3 linked regions of the Homo sapiens genome follow. The protein of the gene in region 1 purifies or fractionates together with the protein of each later gene. This does not show direct contact. Each region holds a gene or a part of one and is shown in the gene's direction. Other genes may lie near its edges.

Region 1 (3,658 bases):
TGGTGCCGTCTTGGCTCAGTGCAACCACCACCTCCCAGGTTCAAGCGATTCTCCTGTCTTGGCCTCCCAAGTAGCTGGGAGTACAGGCACGCACCACCATGCCTGGCTAATTTTTGTATTTTCAGTAGAGACAGGGTTTCACCATGTTGGCCAGGCTGGTCTCAAACTCCTGACCTCAAGTGATCTGCCCACTCCGGCCTCCCAAAATGCTGGGATTACAGGTGTGACCCACCGCACTCAGCCCACAATATGAATTTTTAAAAACTGGTTCATTCAAATGTATGTGGTTATTAAAGTACTTCTGGATGGGGCTATAATAAATATAGCTTATATTAGTTTCCTAGGGCTGCCATAACAAAGTGCCAAAACCAGGGTGGCTTAAAACAACAGGAATTATTGTTTCACAGTTCTGGAAGCTAGAAGTTTGAAATCAGGATATCAATAGGGCCGTAATGTCTCTGGCAACTCTAGGGGAGAATACTTCCTTACCTCGTCTAGCTTCTGGTGTTTGCCTGCAATCTTTGGCATTTCTTGACTTACAGCTGCATCACTCCAGTCACATAGCATCTTTTCCTTGTGTATTTTCACCTTGTATTCCCTCTGTGCATGTCTGTCTTTGTCTCCAAAGACAAAGACACCTTTTGTAAGTACACCAGTCATACTGCATTGGGACACAGCGTGATTTTTTTTTTTTTAATGAGAAATTAACATTTATCTGCCTTCAAGTGTTTATCCTATACGTGTTTTAAGGTACTATACATTTAAATGTAGAAGTGTTACATTTCTGCAACCAGGTAGTCCTAGGTCTAAAAGAATTTCCAGAAGTACCTATGGCATCCTTAACTTGGTACAAATATGCAGTTGTTTGTTTTAGGGAGTGGCATCTTTAATTCTGTTAAGGTGGTAAACTTTTCATAGCTTTGGAATGAAAATGAGCATTTGTCATTAGCTTTAAATTTCTTGGACACCAGTATTTATCCAGTTGATAAGTAACTCTTTTTCTGCATTCCATATATGGTGACTAATCTCAGCCTTAATACTTAGAATTTTAAACCTTTCATTAGGGTGTTCTAGACACTGAATAAACTTTACTAAAGTTGGAAAGTATATTTTTCACTAATCTAACAAAAATTAAATTTTAGCAGGCTCTAAGCAGAATAAATTCCCTGAAAAAAGAAAAAGGAACTCTGTGGACTCAGATCTGAAAAGCACAAGAGAATCTATGATACCAAAAGCAAGAGAGTCCTTCCTTGAGAAGCGTCCTGATGGACCACATCAGAAAGAAAAATTTATAAAACATATTGCACTGAAGACACCTGGTGATGTGTTGCGCTTAGAAGATATATCCAAGGAACCGAGTGATGAAACTGATGGCTCTTCTGCAGGCTTGGCACCTTCAAATTCTGGCAATTCTGGCCACCATTCTACCAGGAATAGTGACCAAATCCAAGTGGCAGGTACCAAGGAGACTAAGATGCAGAAACCCCACTTACCTTTATCTCAGGAAAAGTCTGCAATTAAAAAAGCTAGCAACCTTCAGAAAAATAAAACCGCTAGCTCCACGACAAAGGAGAAGGAGACAAAACTACCTTTACTTTCCCGTGTTCCAAGTGCTGGTTCCTCTCTAGTACCATTAAATGCTAAAAATTGTGCTCTTCCAGTTTCTAAAAAAGATAAAGAGCGTTCCTCATCTAAAGAATGTTCTGGGCATTCTACAGAATCCACCAAACACAAGGAACACAAAGCAAAGACTAATAAGGCCGATTCTAATGTATCTTCAGGGAAAATTTCTGGGGGACCTTTGCGCTCAGAATATGGCACTCCTACAAAGTCTCCCCCTGCTGCTTTGGAAGTTGTGCCATGTATCCCAAGCCCTGCAGCACCTTCAGATAAAGCCCCTTCAGAAGGAGAGAGTTCAGGAAATTCCAATGCAGGTAGCAGTGCACTGAAAAGAAAACTAAGGGGTGATTTTGATAGTGATGAAGAAAGTTTAGGTTACAACCTAGACAGTGATGAGGAAGAGGAAACATTAAAGTCACTGGAAGAAATAATGGCTTTGAACTTCAATCAGACTCCTGCAGCTACAGGAAAGCCTCCTGCTCTTTCCAAGGGGCTTAGATCTCAGTCATCAGACTATACAGTAAGTAGTTCTGTGACGTTTATCTTTACTTGAAGAGGGAAAGATGATTAATTAGTGAAAGGGGTGGATTATCGGAACTTACTTTAAAATTTAGTATTTATTATAACTCATATTTGTACTGAAAATGGAATAATTCTTGTTTGGTAAATGAGTTTCCATATCTTTAGTTTTATTACTGTAAGTCAGTGGTCTCCAAACTCTTTTGATCACACACACTTAACAATTTTTGAGCATGTACCCCAACATATATGTATACCTTTAGATTATATATATGTACCACTGTAATACTGTGTACTTTCTAAAGCATATGCAAAAACAGAATTTAAAAGGAAGAAGAAGAGAAAAATAAGTATTTTCCTGTAGAAGTGACGTAGAAGTTACTATAGACTAAGTTCTACTGGAGTCTCTATAGAAGTTCCATATAAATAGAAGTTCTATTATTTTCTTCCTGCACCCCAATGGATCACCTTGCACACCCCCTGCTTTGGAGACCACATCTGTAAATGAAGGTAGAGTGTAGAAATGTTGTTGATTGTGGTGTGCAATTTTATTTATAAAGTGCTTCATTCTATCTTGGGAATAAGCTGAATTAAATTCTAAGATGTCTGTAAAATTTGGTGGGGAAGGTGTTAATATTCCATGGTAACACCTAAAAATTAGTAGTTTGATTCTACTAAAATAGAATTTAAAAGTAAAGACAGGGTAGCCACAGAGTCCTTGAGTGTTTGCAGTCACATCTCAAAGTTAGCAGGGTTTTATAAGTACTGCCTTTCCTAATAGGTAGTAAAATCAAATTGTCTGCAGTGCAAAATACTAGATTTAAAGCATGATGGTGAAAATTATCCTTTAAGAAAGGTGTTATCCTGGCCCAGATTATTGAAATAGAAAATAGTCTTTCGTACCCTTAATTACTTAAAACATCCCAGTTCTTCTACTAAGACATGTGGTAAAGTATTTCTAAATGTTCTTGTTTTAGGGACATGTTCATCCTGGAACTTACACAAATACCTTAGAACGTCTAGTGAAGGAAATGGAAGACACACAAAGGTTTGTTAGCATAAAGATTAATTTGCTAAATTTAACATTTTGCTTGTTTGTGTGGCTTACTTTTAATTTACCTTTTTTAAAAAATCATGAGAAATTAGCGTGCATTTTGGACTCTGTTGTCAACTGTGTTAGAATAAGATATGTTGGCCGGACGCAGTGGCTCATGCCTGTAATCACAACACTTTGGGAGACCCAGGCAAGATTACTTGAGCCCAGGAGTTCAAGGCTGCGGTGAGTCGTGATGGCGCCACTTCACTGCAGCCTGGGTGGCAGAGTGAGACCCAGTCTCAAATGAAAAAAAGAGGCCAGGTGTGATGGCTCATGCCTGTAATCCAGTACTTTAGGAGGCCAAAGCAGGCAAATCTCTTGAGCCCAGGAGTTTGAGACTAGCCTGGGCAACATGGTGAAACCCCATCTCTACAAAAAATACAAAAATTAGCCAGTCATGGTGCCACATACCTATGGTCCCAG
Region 2 (3,658 bases), on another chromosome or scaffold:
TAGATATTGATAGAGAACATGTTGTGTCTATATACATATCCAATGACACACAGTATAATCATGTTTTAAATTATGCCAAAAGTACTGATTATATCAAGCCCAGTAAACATAATGCTACACAGCACCCATTCTTTAATTTTGATTTCTAAAATTATAACCTTCCTTTGATATTAATAAAATGTTATGAACTTGCAGGAGAAGGAAGGAGTTGAAAGAAGGAAAATATAAAGGGTGATCCACAGTGAAAATCAGACCTACACAAGCCACAAAAAAATTGTCTCATTTTCCCAAGGAATTCAAAGTCCTGTGATACACATTACAAAAGATGACACTTTGTAAATATTTTGAACTTCTATGATCCAATTTCAACTTCATTGGTCCAATTTGTCAAACTATTTTCCTCTGAGCACTAGATTCATGGGCAATTTAATCTCTGAATATTTTCTGTGTCATAAGTGTGCTTGAAAAGAGGCTTGTAGTAAACAGATATTTTTACAAAATTTGATGCTTCTGCAACCATAATAATTTTATCTATAAATGCGTATATACATATATATATATATATATATACACATACACTCACATGCAGATATTTACATATATAGATATTCTCTTTTCCTTTTATAAAATCAAAGTCTAGGCTCAATTGGAAAATGGAAATATTTGCACCAAAAGAAAAAAGTGCCATTGTTGTGATCAATGGAGTAAAGCTGGGGTATAGTAGAGGCTGGGGAATCCCTGCCCATGTTCTCTCCAAGGCCACAGCTTGCACACCGTGAATGGTGGCCCCACTGGCTCCATGGAGTGTGCCTTCACGCGGGGGAATGTCCTTGTCCAACACGCTGTAATCTACTCCATGGGAACTGACTGTCCTGCTTTTCACAACATTGAGAAACAGGCCCAGAGCCTGTCTCATGTGCCAGGTGCAGTCACATTATTGTTAAAATAAAGTGGCTTCTGACAAATCAGTTTTTCAAAATAGCATCCTATGTACTTTTCATTTCTTCCAACAACCCTCAGGCCCCCTTTTGCCAGTTTTCTCCCCCAGGGGAGATTTTCAAGACTACTGGAGAAAAATCTGTTAATAAAACATTTGCTCTGAGTACCAGCTTCAGTGACTCAATCATTTATACAGGATTTCAGTGTTTTGTTCTGCAGCGGTGTTCTAAAGGGTTCACATAGTATAATGGAGGAGGGACAAAGCAGAATATACTTCCAAGCTGGAACATCTTTAAGACATTTACAAACTGTTATGGGACACTATCAGCAACTACGCCTGGGGAAGCTAGCAGGATTTAGCTCTTCAATGGCCCTCCAAATGCACCCAACAATCGCCAACCTCACCCATGGAAATCATCTAAAAAATGAAAAGAAGGGCCTTAAAGTCCTCACATGGATGCTGTATTTATAACTAAAATGTACAGTTTAATTCTAAATAGCAGGCTTTTAAATGCAAACAGCTTCCAGGTGAGTCCTCTGGCTGCCAATCAGACTGCTGATTCTAAACCATTCTCACACAGAATTTCTGAAACCAACACCAGGTATTAATTGTTAACTGCAGTGAAAGGAAACCAAGGCACATTACAAAAGGCTAAATGCTGCTGTTTCTAAGTGGAAGCACTGTTGAACAACACTCTTAGGTGGAATAAGAAAATTAGGGTTAAACTGTAACATTGTAATCGGACGAACAAATCAGCATCTTTGATCCTCAGGTTAAAATTTAATCTTAAATTTAGAAATTCAAAGTAACAGCCTTTAACCATTAACCTTGAGGAAAATGTGAAGTAGCATCTGGAGTCTCTTAAGCCCCAGCCCTGTTGTCCCCTACAGCATCTCCACCCAGGAAGTCCAGTTCCTAACTAATGGGAATGGATCCTTTTCCCATTATAAAGGGCCGATGCTTAACCCTTGAACCCACTACTGTTCTTATGCCCCAAGATCTGCACCTTACATCAGGCACCCGGGAATGCTTCTCATTGAAATTTTACCATACCAAAAAATATGTAAGGGTGACTCATCACTCCTAACTTTGGACTCCTTGCTTTGAGATCGGTATTTTTTTCTCTCTCTTTACATATAGCAAAAGCTTTCCCCAGTAGCTGATGAATTTAGAACTTTATACAAGACTCCCTAGCATTTTCCTCCTCCCACAGGCTGGAGAATTTCAGTGCTATGAGACTGGGCAGTAGGAGCCAGAGCCAATTTGCAGGATCTCTTTTCCTTCTGCCTTCCAGTTGGCTTCTCTTCTCAGCTGCGTGGTGGGGATGATTTGGGGTTTCCTCAGCAAGGCCATTCTCTGCCTTGTGCCCATAGCAGGGCCTTGGGTGGTGACATGTTATCTTTGTTGGTGAGCAGACACTCAGAGATCCTTTAATTATCTGACACACCAGGGAAATCTTGGCAATCAACTAAGGACCTGTGACACTCATAACTATGTTTACATTTGGCTTTAGCATATTTCAGGTAATATCTTTATGAAAAAAAGATGAAGTATGGAATTGTAGGAACTCTTTTGCAATAGACTGAGATCCAATGTTTAAATCTTTTTATTTCAGTTTGATCTGTGCCTTTAGATTGGGGACAAAATTTTAAAAACAAATCTTCCAAATGACACCACAATGAAAGCCAGTTGTGGTCTTGAAAAATCTCTCTATTGCATTACTTATCCTCACCCTTGTTTTTTAAGAGGTAGAGAGAGATTACTGGGAAGCAGTGAGCCAACATAATTGTCCTTTCCTCTACAGAATAGCTGTGCAGAAGGGGACCACCACACTTAGGACCAGTGCCAGGTGACAATCTTTCCGTCATGCTGCTGCAGCATTTTGCACCTTGAGAGACAGGAAAAAAAATGGGGGTGAGGGAGTGGAAGATGATGAAACTATTTCTCTTTTATGTCTACATCCTTACTCCTCAAAATACTTTAAGCTCACTCAGACCCCATATACCCTGCCCACAATACTAACACATGTACTTTGCATAAGTAAATTGTTGATTAAATAAGAGCAAAACTATATTCTTATGTGTAGATTAACCAAGGCTAATTTCCTGGAGTTTAATACACTTTGGATTCAAGTAAAAACAATCACTTAATGCAGCAACATCTCAGACCCTCTTCACTCTAGAACCGTTTTATACAAGAGAACTCAACATTTACTGTTTTATTTCTGATATTGCCTGCCATTACTCAGGATGCAAGAGATGCTCTGCATTCCTTATTAGGAAAAATTGGCCTGTAAGGAGAATGGTATACTGCGTATTACTACTGTGAGACTGTAAAATTGTTAATGGACAGTGTAAAGAATTGTATTCATTTTATTAGCAAGAAAAATATTGCATACAAGAACTACTGCCCTGAAATATCCATCACTCCAATGAACTGTTCTGCCTGATCTAACATAAAGTTATATTTCATTGCTCATTTTTTTTTGCCTCACTAAAATGACTAACTTAAGGGAATGTGCATTTCTACAAGACTTTAATTGGATAAACTCATTAGAAGAAAATGTTTCGATTGCATTCAGGAACAAAGAAGCATAACCTTTGTTGACTCTTGTAATTTATTATATGCTTCATTTAAACCCATTTTGTAAAGAAATCAGGTAACAGTCATTTAATCTGATATAATTAGAAATAGCTGAGAGAGTAAAAAAGCATTTTG
Region 3 (3,658 bases), on another chromosome or scaffold:
GGGATTACAGGCGTGAGCCACCGCGCCCGGCCAACTATAGTGTTTTCAAAACATGTGTACACATACTCTATGAGGATGCAAATTGAGATTTCAACAAATATTTCTCAGTGACTTACATAAAGCCGTGCTTTATCTTGGCGCTTAGATGAATTTTGTTTGGTTGGTTTTGGTTTTGGTTTTACATATATCCTAGGAACATAGCAGGTGATATAGAGTGGTAAAGAGCACACGTCCACTGTTAGTAGGTATTTTTATGCACTTGTTTTCTCATCTATAAAATAAGGATAAAATTAGTGCCTACCTCACAGGATATTAGGGAGATGAAGAGAATGCTCAGAACACAACAGGGCCTAGCACAGAGGAAGCACAATGCTGAGGAACGAGAAACTGCACCTGTAAATTCTGCAGTCACTTTAAATTATAAAACGAGTATTTGATGTATGATCATAACTTTGCTAAGAAGCCATCAGTTATAATGATGCATGAACTGTAGCAATCCAGTGAGTAGTGACAGGATGGAGGAGCTTTATGGAGGGGGAAGAAAGGAACCTCAAAGCTTTCTGATTCATTTTGAATCATGAGATGTCTACATGTAAAAATTCTGCCTTGGTAAACTTTGTTTATAATGTTTTAGATAATGCATTCACATGGTTCAGATGTATGAATGTGATATATTAGTTATTTGTTTATAAATATATATTTTATAAACATATTTATAAATATATAAATATATATTTTATAAACATATTTATAAATATATAAATATATATTTTATAAACATATTTATAAATATATAAATATATATTTTATAAACATATTTATAAATATATAAATATATATTTTATAAACATATTTATAAATATATAAATATATATTTTATAAATAAATATATATTTTATTTATAAAATAAAATAAACAATCTCTATTTATATTCCATTAAGGCTTAGTTTGGTTGGTTTAAAAGAAAGTCTGATCTTAAACTCTGGTTCTGAAAGACTAATAGTTCTTTGCATTTTCTCTTCTCTTTCGTTTGTTTCTAATTAGTGCTGTAGAAAACAAAACATCACCTCATTCAAAGTTCCAAGAAAGACAGTTCTGGTCAGGCCTAAAGGTGAGCAAAAACTGCAAAAATGAAAAGGCAATTTTTGTAAAAATCCTGTTTACTATAGAACAAAGAACAACAAACTTCTTCTATAAGAATTAGATAGTATTTTAGGCTTTGTGGTCACATGGTCTCTGTCGAATTACTCAACTCTGCCGCTGTAGCACAAAAACAGTCATAGTACATAAACAAATGAACATGGCTGTTTGAATAAAACTTATGAACACTGAAATTTGAATGTCATATAATTTCCTCATGGTACAAAATATTTTGTTTAAAGACAGTTTTAAAACGTCCTTGAAAAGTGTTAAAACCATTCTTAGCTCACGGACCCTATAAAAACAGGCAACAGGATGGATTTAACCCACAAGCTATATAGTTGGCTAACCCCTGGCCTTAAAATTATTGCTAAGTCAGTGGCAGTAGGGATGAGAAGGAGAAGAAGGTTCAAACAATGTTTGGGAGGAAGCATTGAAAGGAGTCGATAACTGATCAAGGGAAGATAAGATCTATTTTGTACATAATGAAGATATATGTGGGACAAATAGAGATACAGAGGTCTAGGAGGTGGTTGGATACATAAGTCTGAATTTCAGGAGACAGATCTGAGCTAGAGATTTGGGAGTCCACTACCTGTAGGTAATATTTGGAGCCATGGTCATGAATGGCAAGCTGCGTAAGGAGACTGGATGAAGCATGAGAAGTAGGCCAAGGACAGAACCTCGGGAAATACTAACAGAAGAGGAGAACATGGAGGCTTCAGGGAATCTGTAGAATCAATTATGAGCCTTAGGATGATCACAAGAGAATGGCCTCAAGGAAGCTAAATGAAAGATTTTCAAGAATGAAGAAAAGAGTGTTAAATGCCACCAAAGAGTATTAAGAGAAAGACTGAAACACTGTTTATTGGATTTGACAATTAGAAGGATATAGGTGACCTCACCAAGAGTAGTTTTAATAGTGTGAATTAATATTTGTCATGTGGTTGAATCAGGGAAAAGGCTTTCTGGGAAGAGGGAACAACATCAACAATGAGATAAAATGTGAAAAAGCATTACATTTTAGTAAAACAGCATGTAGTTCAGCACTCAGAGTAATGAATATAGTACTGCAAAAAAAGAAACACCTTAAAATTCACAGAAAGATCTGAATTTAGTAGAGGGAAAGGACAACCAATATTTTATTAGAATTTATTATGGTTACTTAATCCAAGTTATCTTCAAACTCAAAGGTGATTATAAATCTTTATGTATCAGAGGAATGAAGCTCTCAGCGTTGATTGCCTTCTCAAGGTCACATGTTGGTAATGGCGGCCCTAGTTTTGACAGTAGTTCTTTATGAATCACGTGGTCCTGTGGTCTTATACTTGATGGCCCCCGGCTTTGAGAGAAAATGGATTGGGAAGGAAGATTATTGATCTGGAAAGGCTCTAGTGAAGTTATTTGAGATAGATTTGGGGATGGTTATCCTAGAAAATGAAAATAAGATGAGCAAATACATGGAGTTTGGAAAGAATCAAGTATTTATTCAGAGATATTGTATTCTAAAATTGACAGTTCCAACAGGGCTAATTGTAGTGAGAATTTTAGTTTGACCAACTCTTCATGTTTGTTAGAGACTATTACAGTTTCTCTTTGGAGAAAAGGTACATATTTACTTGATATTTTATTTTAGCTCTTCCGCAATATTCTTCTTTGGAATGGACTCCTTACAGATGACACCTTGCAAGAACTAGGACTAGGGAAGCTGCTAAATCGTTACCTTATTATAGCACTTCTCAATGCCACACCTGGGCCAGATGTGGTTAAAAAGTGCAACCAGGTAAGTTGTGAAGGAAGACTGATTCTAATTTTATCATTTCTAAAAAATTTAGCTATTAAAATCTATTATTTAGCAAAATAATTAAATGTGTGGTACTCATATATAGACAAATGGGCCAGGCACAGTGGCTCATGCCTGTAATCCCAGCACTTTGGGAGGCTGAGGCAGGCGGATTGCGTGAGGTCAGGAGTTTGAGACCAGCCTCACCAACATGGTGAAACTCCGTCTCTACTAAAGATACAAAAATTAGCCAGGTGCGGTGGCTAACACCTGTAATCCCAGCTACTTGGGTGGCTGAGGCAGAAGAATCGCCTGAACCCAGGAGGCAGACGTTGCAGTGAGCCGCCATTGCACTCCAGCCTGGGTGACAAGAGCAAAACTCCATCTCAAAAAAAAAAATTGACAAATGAATTTAACAAAGCTAAAATGCAGAGCCGCTCTTCTGTATTTAAGAAAGAGTATACTGGTTTGAAATATCCCCAGTAGGGAAAGGAAAAATTACTTAATAAATGATGCTAGATGGCTGGCTGTTTACAAAAAGAATGTTAAGTCCTCACCTCTCACTATACACCAAAAAAATTTCAGGTAAAATTTTAAAAAATGTAAAAATGAAACTATAAAATATACTAAGATGGTAAATGACTATATTTGAGAGTGAGGGAGTTCCTTCTAAACTTAAAGGCAAAAGAAGAAATTATGAGAAAAAGTAATAAATTTGAAAAAATATAAAACTTT

Evidence for each region.
Region 2: the proteins of SLF2 (region 1) and ITGA1 purify together in Homo sapiens (affinity purification with mass spectrometry; one large-scale study listed by BioGRID and IntAct). This does not show direct contact.
Region 3: the proteins of SLF2 (region 1) and GCFC2 purify together in Homo sapiens (affinity purification with mass spectrometry; one large-scale study listed by BioGRID and IntAct). This does not show direct contact.

Annotation. Positions count from the first base shown.
Region 1 is NC_000010.11:100,922,833-100,926,490, forward strand, and holds part of SLF2 (SMC5-SMC6 complex localization factor protein 2), read left to right. Parts: intron 1-1,142; coding exon 1,143-2,140; intron 2,141-3,116; coding exon 3,117-3,187; intron 3,188-3,658. UniProt on the Homo sapiens protein: Plays a role in the DNA damage response (DDR) pathway by regulating postreplication repair of UV-damaged DNA and genomic stability maintenance.
Region 2 is NC_000005.10:52,955,390-52,959,047, forward strand, and holds part of ITGA1 (integrin alpha-1 precursor), read left to right. Parts: 3' UTR 1-3,658. UniProt on the Homo sapiens protein: Integrin alpha-1/beta-1 is a receptor for laminin and collagen. It recognizes the proline-hydroxylated sequence G-F-P-G-E-R in collagen. Involved in anchorage-dependent, negative regulation of EGF-stimulated cell growth.
Region 3 is NC_000002.12:75,669,403-75,673,060, reverse strand, and holds part of GCFC2 (intron Large complex component GCFC2), read left to right. Parts: exon of another isoform or gene 1-745; intron 746-1,044; coding exon 1,045-1,111; intron 1,112-2,776; coding exon 2,777-2,923; intron 2,924-3,658.